Homo sapiens: one gene and its partners. The protein of the gene in region 1 interacts with the protein of each later gene in a pairwise test. Each region holds a gene or a part of one and is shown in the gene's direction. Other genes may lie near its edges.

Region 1 (5,663 bases):
CTGGAAACAAAACTTTTAGTTCTAAATTCTTTGGTGCAAAGGGCAGAAGGGAGCTCTGCTGCTGCTGGACTTGGCTTCCCTGCACGGCTGCTGGGGATCGACCTGCTGGCTTGCTGGGCCTGCCCCACGTCCTCCCTCGCTCCCCTTCAGCTCAGCCTGCATCTTCTATGCTGGCCCCAGTACCCTGACCGCCCCCACCCTCGCTTGCCCTCCCCCACAGGTGGACACAATCCTGTTTGCAGAGTTCCAGGCCTGGAGGGAATCCCCCACCCTGGACAAGACCTGCCCCTTCCTGGAAAGGGTGTACCGAGAGGACGTGGGCCCCTGCCTGGACTTCACAATGCAGGAGGTGAGGCATGGCAGGGGCGGGGCCAGCTGGGGGACACACCCCTCCGCCAGGGCCCAGCCCCTTACCACCCTGCCTGCCTCCCTGGTCTGCCACAGCTCTCGGTGCTGGTACGGGCCGCCGTGGAGGACAACACGCTCACCATTGAGCCGGTGGCTTCGCAGACGCTGCCCACAGTGAAGGTGGCCGAGGTTGACTGTAGCAGCACCAAGTAAGCTGAGGGTCTTAGCTCCTTCCTGCCCATGTGGGAAAGCCCCGCCAAGCCGTGTGTTTACTGTGCCGAGGGGTGGTCAGGATGCAGCAGCGCCGACAGGACAGGGACAGTTGCTGCCCCCACAGGGCAAGGAGGCAGTTTGGCAGGTTTCCTGTGGACCCCCAGGCTTTCCAGAGAGGCCGGGAGCTAGGGTCTGCCTCTTCCTGACTGGTCTGCTCTGTGCCCTCCCCTTCTTTTCTTGAACCATGATTATCAGTTGCTGGCTGTGCCCCTGCCAATAAATAACGACGCAGTAGCCCTGGCATTTGTCCTCCAGCTACTCACCTGGCATTGAGCAGGGGAGCAGCAGAACAAAATAGCCAGGGTGGAGCAAGGGGCAGAAATTGGGGAGGATTTCACCTTGGCAGCCAAGAGCCTGGCTGGGGATGGCTGGTGCCCTGGTGGGAGGCTCATCACGGAGAGGGAGCATTTGAGCCAGGTTTTGAAGGATGAATAGAAGTTTGCCAAGCAGGGAAGGGCATTTCAGGCAGAGGGAACGGAATGTGCAAAGGTGTGAGAAGCTGGAGTATTAACGGAAGCACCACTGGGGCATCTGGCTAAGCAGTGGGGGGACAGGGAATTGGGGTGGAGGCTGCAGAGGCTGTTGGGGCCAGAGTATAAAGAGCCTTCACAGGTTTGGGCTTTAACCCACCAGCCAGTGCGGCAAAAGTCATCAATAGGCCGGGTGCAGTGGCTCACACCTGTAATCCCAGCACTCTGGGAGGTTGAGGCGGGTGGATCACTTGAGGTCAGGAGTTTGAGACCAACCTGGCCAACATGGAGAAAACCCCATCTCTACTAAAGATATAAAAGTTAGCCGGGTGTGGTGGCACACGCCTGTAATCTCAGCTGCTCGGGAGGCTGAGTCAGGAGAATTGCTTGAGCCTGGGAGACGGAGGTTGTGGTGAGCTGAGATTGCACCACTGCACTCCAGTCTGGGTGACAGAGTGAGACCCTGTCTCAAAAAAAAAAAAAAGTCATCAATAGCTGCCACCTGAAAAGAGGCTCTCTGGTCCATCAGAGAGTCCCAGTGAACCAGGAGGCAACAAATGCTCTGATAAGTCCGCAGCCAAGGAGCTTTTTAAACCTTCATTTATTTGGGATTCTCCCCATTTCTTGGGAATTAGGAAAGCAAGAGAGAAAGATGATGGGTTAGATGTGGGTTTTTGGAGGAGCCCTGGCTCTGATGTGGAGAAGAAAGAGAGCGATGAGGCAGAGAGCTGGCCAGAAGGAGCCAAGGGGATGCAGGCCAAAAGTACTGCTGCTGTGCCCTGGCCTGGGGACTTGGTGACCAAGCAGAGGGTGAGGAGGAGAGAGCCGAGCAGATGATGGCCAGTGAAGAGCAGGTTTGGGGAGTGGGGCCCAGATGGGGGTTGCTCAGGGCCTGTGGAGACCCTTCATGTGGGTGGCTGAAGATGCTGAGCGACGTCATGCAGGACTGGGGGGAGGAGAGAAGAGGGCATGGGAGAAGGCTCTTAGACGGGGTTGGTTGGCATGCGGCTGAGAACCATGGGGGTTAGTGGGGTCAGAAGGCCTGCATGGATGAAGCAGGGGAGCTGCTGGATGTTGGGAAGCGGGAGGCAGCCAGACCTCAACTCTGGCCTAGTTGGGGGAGGAGTGCCTGGTCTGAGTCCCCAGAAGTAGAGGGAGAGGCATATGCAGAGCCTGCAGAGGGTGGGACTTTGTACACCTGGCATGAGATTAACCAAGCTCTCTTGCCCAGTAGGGGCAAAACAAGGGTTCTAGGGGTACAGCTCAGCTTAGTTCGAGGTCTGTCCCAGGGATGGCTGGGGCCAGCTCCCTTCTCTGCCTGGCTCTGGGTTCCTTTGGAAGCCGGGTGGGGGAAGGGAGGCCTGCCCCTCCCCATGCATCCTCTCAGCTGCTGCATCTTCCCTGTATGCAGGGGTGAGGGAGAGGGGCAAGCCCCAGCCAGCCCCCGTGACCCATTTTGCTTTCCCCTAGCACATGTGCCCTGAGCGGGCTGACCCGCACCTGCCGCCACCGAATCCGGCTCGGGGACTCCAAAAGCCATTACTACATCTCGCCATCTTCCCGGGCCAGGGTGAGTCAGCCTTTGCAAGCGTTACTTGACTCCTTTGGGGCCACCTGGGTGCTGGGACACTGGGCCCTGGGCCTGGGAGTATGAATAGCACTACACCTTGATTTACTTATTTTATTTATTTATTTTTTGAGACAGAGTCTTTGTCACCCAGGCTGGAGTGCAGTGGCACAATCTCAGTTCACTGCAATGTCTGCCTCCCAGGCAGACATTAGCAATTCTCCTGCCTCAGCTTCCCAAGTAGCTGGGATTACAGGCATGTGCCACCACGCCCAGCTAATTTTGTATTTTTAGTAGAGATGGGGTTTCACCACGTTGGCCAGGCTGAACTCGAACTCCTGGCCTTAAGTGATCTGCCTGCCTCGGCCTCCCAAAGTGCTGGGATTATAGGTGTGAGCCACCACGCCCAGCCTTACATCTTGATTTACAGAGCAGGGTACAGGCTCAGAGAGGCGCAGAGACTGACTCGGGCCACACAGCCAAGCCAAGGGCAGTGGTTTGCTATTACGGTGTAACAAATTACTATCAACCTGGTAGCTTAAAATAGCGCAGTTCCCCATGTTGGAGTCTAAGCACTACTTACTTACTGGATTCTCTGCTCAGGGACTTGCAAGGTCGCAGTAAGCTGTCAGCAGACTGTGTTCCTTTCTGGAAGTCAGGGTCCTCCTCAAAACTCACATTGTTGGCAGCATTCAGTTCCTTGTGTTTGAAGGACTGAGGCCCCTATTTTCTTGCTGGCTGCTGGCAAGGGGACACCCTCAGCTTCTAGAGGACACCCGCAGTCCCCTGCCACAGGGCCTTGTTGCACAGGGCAGCTGACTTCAGAGCCATCAGGAGGGCCACTCTCCAGTCGGCTGAGATGCAGCCTTATGTATGAAATGTCATGGGATGACATCGCCCCCCTCTGTCATTCAATGTCACCTAATCCAGGAGTGATGCTAGAGTTCCAGTTAGAGTGCGGGGCTCCTGACGCCCAGACTCAGGTGCTGGCCGAAGCTTTGGAAAAGGTTCAGCGGTGCGTCTGGTGCACCAGCCTTAAGTCGGCCGTGAGTGCCAAGGGGCCTCTAGGAATCCCAGCTCCCACCCTCCCCTGCCGAGTGACCCAGACCAGGACAGGGGTTCTCACCAAGCTGGGGATTGAGGACAGGGATTCCTCTTCCTCTGTCCCTCTGTTGACTCTTAAGAGGATTGAGGGGAACAAGAGAACATGTTTGGAAACACGTTTCCAGTGACACAGCTTGAGGAACCATCTCAGGCCTGCTAGAGGCTCCTCGCAGGGGAGCAGGTCTAAAGGGGACAAATGGTCCCTTTGCTGGCAGCAGACTATACTGTCCTTGATGAACTCCACAAGGCATCCGAGCGTGAGTCCTCCCAGCGGTGTGCTGAGCACCCATTTACCAAAAGGGAGGCTGAGCCTTGGCAGAGGAAAGGGGTGTGTTCAGGGCCACACACCGAGACCTGGGATCCTGGCTCTGAGTCCACTGCAGCCCCTACCCTGTGGATTTGTGCCCACTGAGCCTTGTTCAGTGGCCACTTATCTCCATCACCGCTTTCCAGGCCCAACCATGGCTCAACAGCAGGCCCCACAAAAGATGTTCCCGTGCTCAACAATGTCACCTCTAGCACTTTAAGTCCCTGGCCTGGGTGTCCTGCTGCACTGGATGAAGCTGGGGGTGGGAGATGAGGTGAGGAGGGTCTGAAGTTTTAGGATGTGGTCCCTGCCCTGAAAGACCAAGACATGTGGGGTCCACAGGGAGAAGTGTTTTCTCCCTAGCACACTCCCTGGAGAGGGAAAGCCCCCTCCCTGCTACTCCCTGCTCATGAGCCTCTGTGGGCATCCACTGTCCCTGCTCCTGTCCTGAGCTCTGCCCTGCCCCACCCTCCTGCCGCAGCCTCTCCTCAACCCTCCCTGTGCAGCGGTGTCCCTGCCACGACGGGCTGGTCCCCCGACCTCGCCCCGCTCTCTCGCACCTCCCTATCTTTGCCAGGCCACCACCGTCCCGCCCCTCCCCGAAGCTTCTCCACTCCCCAGCCTGCGGGTGCCCCTCTCACTTGATGTCCCTCCCCAGGAGTGTTGGACATTCAGTAGGGGCTGTTGCGGGCGGGCACAGCCGCCGGCTACCTTCCACCCTGTCTTAGGCTGGGTTCCGAAGAGGCAGAGCCTCACCTGGAGATTGTGTGCAGCTCCCAGGAGAATGAGGGAAGGGACGGGGGAGTCCAGCCAGGATGTGGCCTTAGCTACAGCCCAGCTTCAGCCCCATCCACCGGGCTCTTAGCAGAGTTGATTCCACCCTGAGGCAAGGGGACTGTCCTTTCTATCTCCACACAAGTCAGTCATCGGCTGAGGTCTACAGGAGGAGTGAGTACAGAGGGGGGCACCTCTGAGCCATTAGTGCCCCCACTCTCAGCAGCTGGGAGATGGGGCCCGGGCCTGGGAAGGGGCCCTGGGCCAGGCACCAACAGTACCCTCTCCGTGGTGTGAGTCCTCATAGCAGTGTCTGAGCCAACACAGGGTCCCCGGGGCCTGGCATGGAGCAGGCCTGAGGCCCCAGGGGCCCCGGGCAGCCCAGGTGAGCGGCTTCTGACCCCCTTTCCTTTCCCAGTGTTATCAGTAGCACTGGACTGAGGCCTGGCTGGCCCAAAACTCCAGCATCTGGAGCAAGCCGGCCTGTGAGAGGGCGAGTGTAGACTCCGGGACAGCCTGCCCGGTTCATCTCACAGCTCTGCTGCATGCTGGTTCATTAGCTCCGCCATCTCCGTGATGGATGTCAGCGGCTTTCCCCGGGTGGCTCCGCTTTCCCCCATGTAAGATGGAATAATAAGCGCGTCTGCTCCGTTCGCTGCAGGCGCTTGATGAAATGGCTGCTGCTGCTGCTGCTGCTATTACAGCAGGGCTAGTCATGCTGTTGTTGATTACTACTTGAAAGCCCAGTCCCAGCTGAGTCAGGGAGCACTGCCTGGCTCTGCAGGGACCTGGGGCCTCCTGCTCTGGACTCAGATCCGCC
Region 2 (3,500 bases), on another chromosome or scaffold:
AGGGTGTTTTTTTGTCTAGGTCTGTTGTAGATGGTTTTTATTTCTTTATATTTTTCTTGGCTTTAAATAGTCACTTTGTTCCCTTCTGAGACATGGGGAAGGATAAGAAACCGCATTCTCAGTATGTCCATAAGCCATTGTTTTTAGCTTAGTTTGTTAGAACATGGTGCCGATGAGGCACCAAACTTCAGTTTTGAACTGCAGTTAGGTTAGTTCAGCTTGGCTGAAGAAAACGTTCCAACTTTGACCAGTTGTCTAGCATTTATGTCATTGGTTGTAAGAAATGAAAGTTTACCAAGCTTACTAATTCAACAGAGGCAGTCACTGCTGGAAAGCTAATTCTGTGTTCTGTTACACTGTTAAAGATAGTACAGACGGTCTCCTGTTAGGATGGTTCGACTTAGGATTTTTTGACAGTGGTGTGGAAGTGACAAGCGTTCAGTAAACTCAGCTTCTGGCATTACCTTCAGCAAAATCCGTTGTAAACCAAGGAGCATCTATAATTTCATCTTCCTTTATTTTTTTCATATAATGACTTGGGTTCATTCCCTTAATATAAATATGTTGGCAATTATGAGGTTTTTTTGAGTTGGAGTCTCCCTGTGTTGCCCAAGCTGGTCTCAACTCCTGGGCTCAAGCTATCCTCCTGCCCCAGCCTCTGGGACTACGGGCATGTGCCGCTCCACCAGGCTCAGTCATCATTTATCTTAATGTATAAAGAATAACATTTAGTGAACAACATAAGGCTTTTGGTAACTATGCTGAATATTTATTTATTTATTTGAGACGAGTCTTGCTCTGTCACCCAGGCTGGAGGGCAGTGGCATGATCTCAGCTTGCTGCAACCTCTGCCTCCCAGGTTCAAGTGATTCTCCTGCTTCAGCCTCCTGAGTAGCCAGGATTATAGGCCTGTGCCACCATGCCCTGCTAACTTTTTTGTATGTTTAGTAGAGGGGGGTTTCACCATGTTGGCCAGGCTGGTCTCAAACTCCTGACCTCAAGTGATCTACCCACCTCAGCCTCCCAAAGTGCTGGGATTACAGGTGTGAGCCTCCACACCTGGCTGAATTTATTAATAGATTGTGTTTCTCTATATTGTTGAGGTCCTTAATAGCAATGAAAGGACCTACTTCAAATTTTAAGTTTAAAATTTCTTCTCACCTACCAGGTGTTATTTTTCATGGTATTGTAGGGTCTTGTTTTTTCCCTTTATCCTTAGCAACTGATAGCTTTTCTTCCCTCTTCTGTAAAAGTAACCTATATTTTTACACCTGATTCCAACTTTGAATCTGAAACTACTCTTATGGATTGGATGAGAGGTCACTCTTTTGCCTTGCCCTCTTCTCAAGGCTAAAATAAATTCCTAGAGAGGAAAGACCAAGCATTTTCATTACTCATATTACATGTGGTTGATAGGATTTTTGTGAGCACCTGCTGTGCCTGCTTGGAAAGTGTGCTTACAACTCTATCTTTCGCAAGTTTATCTGAAACATCAAAGCTGTGAGTGAACTCTTCTGGAGCAAATGTCAACTTCAATGAGTATCATTTTCAAAGATATATTTATCATGCTTTCCAGACATAAACGAATGTCCGCAGCTGGGCTTTAAAGTTGCAAGCTGAAATTCACAGGAGCCAGTTATGGCAGTATGGATACTTAATATGGAACGTAACTCATGCTTTGGGAAGTGTTGGCAGTTGAGAGACCGTAAATGAAGAGATTACTTAATATGCGGTATTACTGAGGATTCTGAAGAGAGTATGTTATCAGAGACTACAAATTCGGTCAGCCCTTGGGAGTGTTGAGGAATGTTGTGCAAATTTAGTTAAGTAGTGGATGATTAGTTTCTTTCAGCTTTAGATTCTATGAAGTTTTTGGCTACCATCTTAAGTTATCTAGGATTTTATAAAGGTAGGGATAATGGTTTCTACTAATGACAAATGTAAAGAAACACAGACATAAGCTAAGCATTACATATTTCATATATATCTATCAACATATATATGGGTTCCCTCTCCCCCTTTCTCTTAACTAACTATTTGGGAGTAATTTCTCCCAAATAATAATGGCAGTTTTTGGAGCCTATGTCTTAAAAAGGTAATTGTGAAGCAAACTAATACTCACACAGAAAATGACCTATGCTAAGTGGAAGGAGGATCAAGAGAGAAAAAATGGGTCTGAGTTCTTGAATCAATTTGCTAGGACACATCTGGAAGAAGATAAGATAAACTAATGGAGGCAGGAGGCTGATTTATTTGTCTCATGTGGCTCATAACTTTACCTCTTAGAAGGGCCACTGAAGAATTCCTCTTTTTTTACTCTGTTACCTGGGAGTAGAAATACTTTCTCTTTGTCCAACTCACCCAGTCTCCTGTTTCTGAGAAAATTCTTTCTTTTGGATTGGTGGGTAGTGTTTCTGGCACGGATTTTGGATAAGACCAAACAAGGTGGGTAGGAAGAGATGAGTGGGAAGACTGTAGGAGATGACACATGGCCTTTCCCCCTCTGTGGAGCACATTGGTGTGGTGAGTACCACAAATTTAAACTTGGCAAGCTCTGTTTGCTTAAATTTGTCTTTAGGAGCAATAGAGAATAGGGTGGACAGTCAAGTTCAGTGGGCTGAATATCGGCAGACCTGCTTCTTTTGATTGCCCCTTATATTAGAATGGTGGCTCTTTTAGTTCATAGAGCACTGTGGATCTGTAAGCTGTGGATTCTGGCCAGAACCATGCAATAAGCAGACAGTTTTGCATACAGTTGAGTAATTGACCCACGGACTACTCAGTCTGTGGACCTCAGGGTGTAATTCCCAGTATCAATGTGTGTGGGGATTATTTCACTATTCTTTGCTACAAATAATTTCTGTAAATTGCCCTTGGTATTTGCCTTGATGCAGATTCCAGAGATGTCTGGAAAGCAAGTATAATAGGTATAGGTCATTGTACAGGAAAAGGCTTTGCTTAAACAAGTGCCCGGTTCAGGAAAAGATATGTTTCCTGAAGAAGATACTTTTTTTTTTTTTTTTTTTTTTTTTGAGATAGAATCTCATTCTCTTGCCCATGCTGGAGTGCAGTGGTGCGATCTCGGCTCATTGCAACCTCCACCTTCTGGGTTCAAGCGATTTTCCTACTTCAGCTTCCCAAGTAGCTGGGACTACAGGCACCCACCACCATACCTGGCTAATTTTTTATATTTTTAGTAGAGATGGGGTTTCACCGTGTTAGCCAGGATGGCCTTGATCTTCTGACCTCATGATCTGCCTGCCTTGGCCTCCCAAAGTGCTGGGATTATAGGCGTGAGCCACCACACCTGACCGCAAGATACTTCTTACACAGAGGCTGCCATCGCAGAAGCTTGTGTTGTACTATCGACCCCCATTTTGGGTCATTTTTTATCAGAAAGATGAGTTGTTCTGCAGCTACAGATTGCGTGTATAATCCTGGCCAGCATCTCTAAAGCTTGTCAGCTGCTTCACGAGTGAGTACCCCTGTTCACAGAGGAG
Region 3 (3,000 bases), on another chromosome or scaffold:
TGCTTTGGGTGCAGCCGTGGAATCCTGATGTAAAAGCATAGGTTCTTGCATTACTGAGTAAACATTGAATTGGGAGCATCAGTGTGTGAATTCAGCTTTGATTTTAGAACTGCAGTTCAATTATGCTTTCCTTGGAAAAAGTATGTCCAAAAACATTAGGAAAGTAGTGTGTATTTTCATATATAACAGTGTCACCAGACCCAGGAAAAGAAACCATCTCTATTTTATTGAAAGTTGGTGGTAGATTTTTTACAAAGTAAGGAGAAAAGAGAAAAACTAAATAGTGAATTGAAAATGAATAAAGTAAACTTAGAATTTTTACCCAAGTGTAGACTTAAATGTTGCTTTGAGTATGGCTGGATCTTGGGAGAATTCCAGGAAATATTAGGTATTAGAAAATGACTTTGATTGCATTTCAGCAGGTGTCTTTATTCTGAGTAGTATCTTAGGAGACAAACTGTCTCAAGCAAGAAACAATAAATTTTTAAATATTATGACAGTTCAGGGCTTAAGGCAGTTTAGAAGTATTTTGCTACTTGACCTTGATTTTCAGTTATTTTAACTTTGAATTTTTTTTTTTTTTTTTGAGACGGAGTCTTGCTCTGTTGCCCAGGCTGGAGTACAATGGCACCATCTCAGCTCACTGCAAGCTCCACCTCCAGGGTTCATGCCATTCTCCTGCCTCAGCCTCCCGAGTAGCTGGGATTATAGGCGCCAGCCACCACGACTGGCTAATTTTTTGTATTTTTAGTAGAGACGGGGTTTCACCATGTTAGCCAGGGTGGTCTCGATCTCCTGACCTGGTGATACACCCACCTCGGCCTCCCAAAGTGCTGGGATTAAAGGCGTGAGCCACCGTGCCTGGCCTTGAATTTTTTTTTAACCTGTTATATAGTCTCCTGAATAGTTAGCCATGGTGCCTTGATTTAATCTTATGTCATTGTTCTCAAATGCCATGATTTCTCTTTAATAGTAGTTGTCATTATGTAAGGGTAAGTTATTGCCCATTTAATTGTAATTATAAGAAGAGGTGCCAGCTAGTGACCTTACATCAGTGATCTTTTAAGTTCTGAAGGGTTCTGCAGAAAAGTTACACTTCTTGAGTTTGGGTTGCCCATCAGAGCTGGTCACATTTCTTTGATCATTGAAAAAATGAATATCTTAATTTTTGTCTTTGCTGACTGGTATTTATAAAATACAAATGCTTTTAGTGGGTTGAGCTGTTGTGATAATCTCTTCCATCTACCTTAGAGAAGAAGCTGTACTATTTAGACAGTTTTGGCCAACACTAGAAGCAAAAGAATTCAAAGGCTGGGTGGATATTTAAGAACTTATTCTAACCTGTCAGGTTTCAATTTGTGGGGCTTGGTTTAACAGAGGAAAAAAATATAAATTGATTTTCTGATGTCTCACAAATATCACATACCTGGAAAAAAATTAAAACAAAAAATGAATTTTGTAAAAGGTTATGTATGACTTCCATTTGCTCTGTAAAAAAATGAACAAAGATTGTGAAAGGATCCTCTTCCACCACATCATTTAATGGGTTAGCGGAACAGATAGGGAGCTATGACACTAGCACCAAAGAGAGATTTTTCTTCTGGTTGGGTGGTGCTGGTGCCACGCCCCTTTCTGGGATTTGACAAGTCTTTCCCACTCACCTATACAATATGCCAAATCAACTGGAGTTGTCATTCTAATGTTTTAAAGAATGATTGGGTTCCCCCAAACTGTAGGAGGTCGATGGTAACAATAAAGTGATACAAAATGCTTATGTCATTATAATTTATGTAAGGGAGACCATTAGGCTGAGAATCAATATGATTGAGGTTATCTATTCTCCTGAAAAGTGAATTGGAGAATAAAGAAAGAATATTTGAAAGGATGTTGTGTACTAGGCAATATACTAGCATGTATTAGAAAATACGGTAAACTGTGGGTTAGAAGAGTGAAAGTAGCTGGTATGATAGAGCACTGGACTGAGTAACGAAGAGATTCTAGTCATGGCTCTTGTGGTCATTTCATTTTTGAGCCTCACATTCTTCCAATTAATGAGGGTACCAGATTAAATAAACTCTGGGGATTCATCCCAATTCGAACTCTGTAATTCTCTGAATGAACTCTCTCTTCAATTAAAGCCAAATTATTAACATTTTAACTCAAGTTTAAATTTAATAGAGAAGTCAAAATGAGGTATGCACTTTGTGGAATGTTTTTGGTCTTATCACAATAACCTGATTAAAATGGTGCCTTTATTTCCATGTTTACTCCTTTAAATAAGATGAAAGCTTTCAGAACATTTATTTGCAAAATGACTGTCAATATCAACAATATGCATCAAAGTACCATATATGCTAAGGGAGAGGAGCACTTGATGGGCTGCTATGTTAACTGTAAATTGAGAACTGCTTGTTTTATGGCTTTTGCTGTTAAAAAAAAACTGCTGGCTTTTAATATGTACTTTAAAATATACTCATGTCTGGGAGAGAACTTTTAAAAACATTTTGTGTTTAATTTTTAAAAAATTATTTCTTTAATAGGAATCTACAAGAAGGTAGATCAGTCCACAGGCTAGCTATCCAGTAGAACCAGTGATTAAATCCAAGTGTACAGGTTTATGTGTGCATGTACATGATACACATGGTATTTTGGGGTTGTTGATCTAGTGATCTAATTATTAATAGTCAAAACATTATTTAAATTCAATTCTTTGACATTTATTAATTATAGGATAGTTCCTGACACGGGTGTGAGCACAAAATGTTATGTATATTGGCTAACTATGTTACCAGTACCAGTGATGGTAGTGAGAATTAGCAGCCAACAGGATTCCTTTACTATGTTTGAGTCAGTGGAACTTAACCTTGCTCCAAACCACAAAATCTCAGACCTTTTTAACTCTCATCCCAATGAATAATGTACTGTTTTTAGCACCTGTCCCCCTGTTGACAACCTCTAATCTCTCAGCATACCATTTTCTCAGGTATTTCTAGGGAAGTG
Region 4 (3,500 bases), on another chromosome or scaffold:
AACCTACCTTTGGCTATCTCTTTCTTCCCCCTACCCTTTTCTGCTTCCAGTAAGCACTATTCTGCTCTCTCCTTCTATGAGATTGACTTTTTTAGCTTCTTCATATTCATGAGGACATGCAGTATTTATCTTTCTGTGTCTAGCTTATTTCACTTAAAATAATGTCCTCCAAGCTCATTCATGTTGCCGTGAATGACAGAAATTTGTTCTTTTTTACAACTAAATAATACTTCATTGGGATATATAGCACTTTTTTTAATCCATTCGCCTATTGATGGAAACTTAGGTAATTTCATATCTTGGCTATGTGTTGTGAGTAGTGCTGCAATAAACATGGGAATACAGATATCTCTTTAACATACTGATTTCCTTTCCTTTGGATATATACCCAGTAGTGGGATTGTTGGATCATACGGTAGTTCTATTTTTAATTTTTTGAGGAACCTTCAAACTGTTTTCCATAATGGGCATATATATGCATATATTCCAAATAACATATAAGAGTTTGTGTTTCACCAAATCCTTGTCAGCATTTTTTTTTTGTCTCCTTGGTAATAGCCATTCTAACTGGGGTGAGATTATATCTTCTTGCGGTTTTGATTTGCATTACCCTGATGATTAATGACATTGACCATTTTTTGTACCTACCTGTTGGCCATTTGTATGTCTTCTTTAGAGAGATGTCTATTCAGCTTATTTGTCTGCTTTCTAATGTGATTTTTTATTTGCTATTGAGCTCATTTTATATTATGAATATTAAACTCTTGTCAGATGAATAGTTTGCAAATACTTTCTCCTGTCCTGCAGGTTGTCTTTTTTCTCTGTTGACTGTTTCCTTTGCTGCGCAGAAGCTTTTTAGTTTGACATAATTTCATTTGTCTATTTTTGCTTTGGTTGTCTGTGCTATTGAGGTCTTATCCATGAAATTTTTGCTCACACCAATACCCTGAAGTATTTCCCCTATGTTTGCTTCTAGTTGCTTCATAGATTCAGGTCTTATATTTAAGTTTTTAATCCATTTTGAGTTGATTTTTACATGTTATGTGAGGTAGAAATACAGTTTCATTTTTCTGCATATGAATATTCAGTTTTCCCAGCATCATTTTTCAAAGAGACTGTTCCTTCCCCATTAAATGTTCTTGGCAGCTTTGTTGAAAATCATTTGGCTGTAAATATGTGAATTTATTTCTGGGTTCTCTATTATGCTCCATTGTTCTATGTCTCTATTCATATGCCAATATCATGCTATCCGGGTTACTATAGTTTTGAAATATATTTTGAAGTTCAAAATGTGATTTCTCCGGCTTTGTTCATTTTGCTCAGGATTGCTTTGGCTATTCAGGGTCTTTTGTGGTTTCATATAAATTGTAGGAGTTTTTTTCTGTTTCTGTGAAGAACATCACTGGTATTTTGATAACATTGCATTGAATTGGTAGATCACTTTTAGTAGTATTGTATTAATTTTTACAATATTAATGTCTACAATTCATGAACATGAGATATCTTTCCATTTTTTGTGTCTTCTTCAATTTTTTTTATCAGTGTTTTGCAGTTTTTATTGTAGAGATCTTTCACCTCCTTGGTTAAATATATTCCTACATGGCTTTTTTTGTAGCTATTATAAATGCAATTTGTTTCTTGATTTTTTTTCCACTAGTTTGTTTTTGGTGTATAGAAAAGCTACTGGTTTTTGTATTCTTTTTTTTTTTTTTTTTGTATCCTCCAACTTTACTGAATCTGTTTATCAGTTCTGAGATTTTTGGTGGAGCTTTTATGATTTTCTATATAGAAGCTCTTGTTATTTGCAAATGAGGACAATTTGACCTCCTTTTCAATTTAGATGCTCCTTATCTCTTTCTCTAGCCTAAGTGCTCTGCCTAGGGCTTCCAGTACTCTTTTGAATAAAAGTGAGATGATTGTCTTCCAAATCTTAGAAGAAAAGCTTTAAACTTTTCTCCATTCAGTGTGATATTGGCTGTGGGTTTGTCATACATGGCTTTAATTATGTGGAAGTACATTCCTTCTATACCTAACTTGTTGAGAATTTTTATCATGAGGGGATGTTGAATTTTTCTCAAATACATTTTCTCTATCTCTTGAGATGATCAAATTGTTTTTGCCCTTCATTTTGTTGATGTAATGTATCACATTTATTCATTTGTATATTACATCCCTGAGGTAAATCTTACCTACATGGTGAATAATCTCTTTAATGTGCTGCCAGATTGGTTCACAAGTATTTTGTTGAGGATTTTTGCATCTATGCTCATCATGTTCATTGGCTTATAGTTTTCTTTTTTTGTTGTTGCATCCTTGACTAGTTTTGGTATCAAGGTAACACTGGCCTCATAGAATGAGTTTTAAAGAATTCCCTTATCTTCAATTTCTGGAAGAATTTGAGGAGAATTTGTATTAGTTCTTCTATAAATCTTTGGTAGAATTCCAGAGTGAAGCTGTCATATTCTGAGCTTCTTTTTGATAAGAGACTTTTTATTACAGACTTAATGCCATTACTTGTAATTGGTCTGTTCAGGTGTTCTCTTTCTTGTTGGTTCACTTCTGATAGATTGTTTGTGTCCAGGAATTTACCTATTTCTGTCAGGTCTTCTAAAGTTTTTGGTATATAGCTGTTTATAATAGTCTCTGATAATTTTTTGTATTTCTATGGTATTAGTTGTAATGTCTCCTTTTCATTCCTGATTTTATTGGGACCTTTACGTTTTTCTTGGGTAGTCAAGCCAATGGAATGTTGATTTTGTTTATCTTTTCAAAAAAATTCAGCTTTCCATTTTGTTGATATTTTGTATTTTTTAGTCTTAATTTTATTTATGTATGCTTTTCTTTCTTTCCTTCTAATTTTGGGCTTGGTTTACTCTGCTTTTCTAGTTTCTTGAAGTGCATCATGAGCTTGTTTATTTGATATCTTTCTACTTTTTTGATATAGGTGTTTGTTGCTGCACACTTACCTTCTAATACTGCTTTTGCTATACCCCAGATGTTTTGGTATTTTGTGTTTCTATTTTCATTTGTTTGAAGATATTTTAAAATCTTCCTCTTAATTTCTTCATTGACTAATTTGTTATTCAGGAACATGTTGTATAATTTCTATGTATTTGTACAATTTTTAAAGTTCCTCGTTATTTTGATTTCTAGTTTTATTATATTGTGGTCAAAAATTGATATGATTTCTATTAAATTTGTTAAGATTTGTTTTGTGGTCTAACGTGGTCTATGCTAAAGAATGTTTCATTTTCTAATGAAAAGAATATGTATTTTGCAGCTGTTGAATGAAATGTTCTGTAAATGTCTGGTAGGTTCATTTGGTCTAAAGTGCAGTTTAAATTAAATGTTTCTTTGTTAATTTTCTGCCTGAATGATCTGTCCAATGCTGAGGGGTGTTGAAGTCCCCAGCTATAATTGTACTGAAATCTATTTCTCCTTTGGGTTTAATTATTTGCTTTATAAATCTGGATGTTGTGGTATTGGATGTGTGTATGTTT

What was found. The genes of interacting proteins can lie anywhere in the genome.
Region 2: the proteins of RAB3IL1 (region 1) and CHCHD3 interact in a two-hybrid assay, tested with the Homo sapiens proteins (one large-scale study listed by IntAct).
Region 3: the proteins of RAB3IL1 (region 1) and RAB11A interact in a two-hybrid assay, tested with the Homo sapiens proteins (2 studies listed by BioGRID and IntAct).
Region 4: the proteins of RAB3IL1 (region 1) and FHL5 interact in binary tests that used the Homo sapiens proteins (3 or more experiments, as listed by UniProt).

Annotation. Positions count from the first base shown.
Region 1 is NC_000011.10:61,899,440-61,905,102, reverse strand, and holds part of RAB3IL1 (guanine nucleotide exchange factor for Rab-3A), read left to right. Parts: intron 1-220; coding exon 221-349; intron 350-444; coding exon 445-557; intron 558-2,561; coding exon 2,562-2,661; intron 2,662-5,663. UniProt on the Homo sapiens protein: Guanine nucleotide exchange factor (GEF) which may activate RAB3A, a GTPase that regulates synaptic vesicle exocytosis. Promotes the exchange of GDP to GTP, converting inactive GDP-bound Rab proteins into their active GTP-bound form.
Region 2 is NC_000007.14:133,075,591-133,079,090, reverse strand, and holds part of CHCHD3 (MICOS complex subunit MIC19), read left to right. Parts: intron 1-3,500. UniProt on the Homo sapiens protein: Component of the MICOS complex, a large protein complex of the mitochondrial inner membrane that plays crucial roles in the maintenance of crista junctions, inner membrane architecture, and formation of contact sites to the outer membrane.
Region 3 is NC_000015.10:65,889,490-65,892,489, forward strand, and holds the end of RAB11A (ras-related protein Rab-11A), read left to right. Parts: 3' UTR 1-2,500; downstream 2,501-3,000. UniProt on the Homo sapiens protein: The small GTPases Rab are key regulators of intracellular membrane trafficking, from the formation of transport vesicles to their fusion with membranes.
Region 4 is NC_000006.12:96,566,128-96,569,627, forward strand, and holds part of FHL5 (four and a half LIM domains protein 5), read left to right. Parts: intron 1-3,500. UniProt on the Homo sapiens protein: May be involved in the regulation of spermatogenesis. Stimulates CREM transcriptional activity in a phosphorylation-independent manner.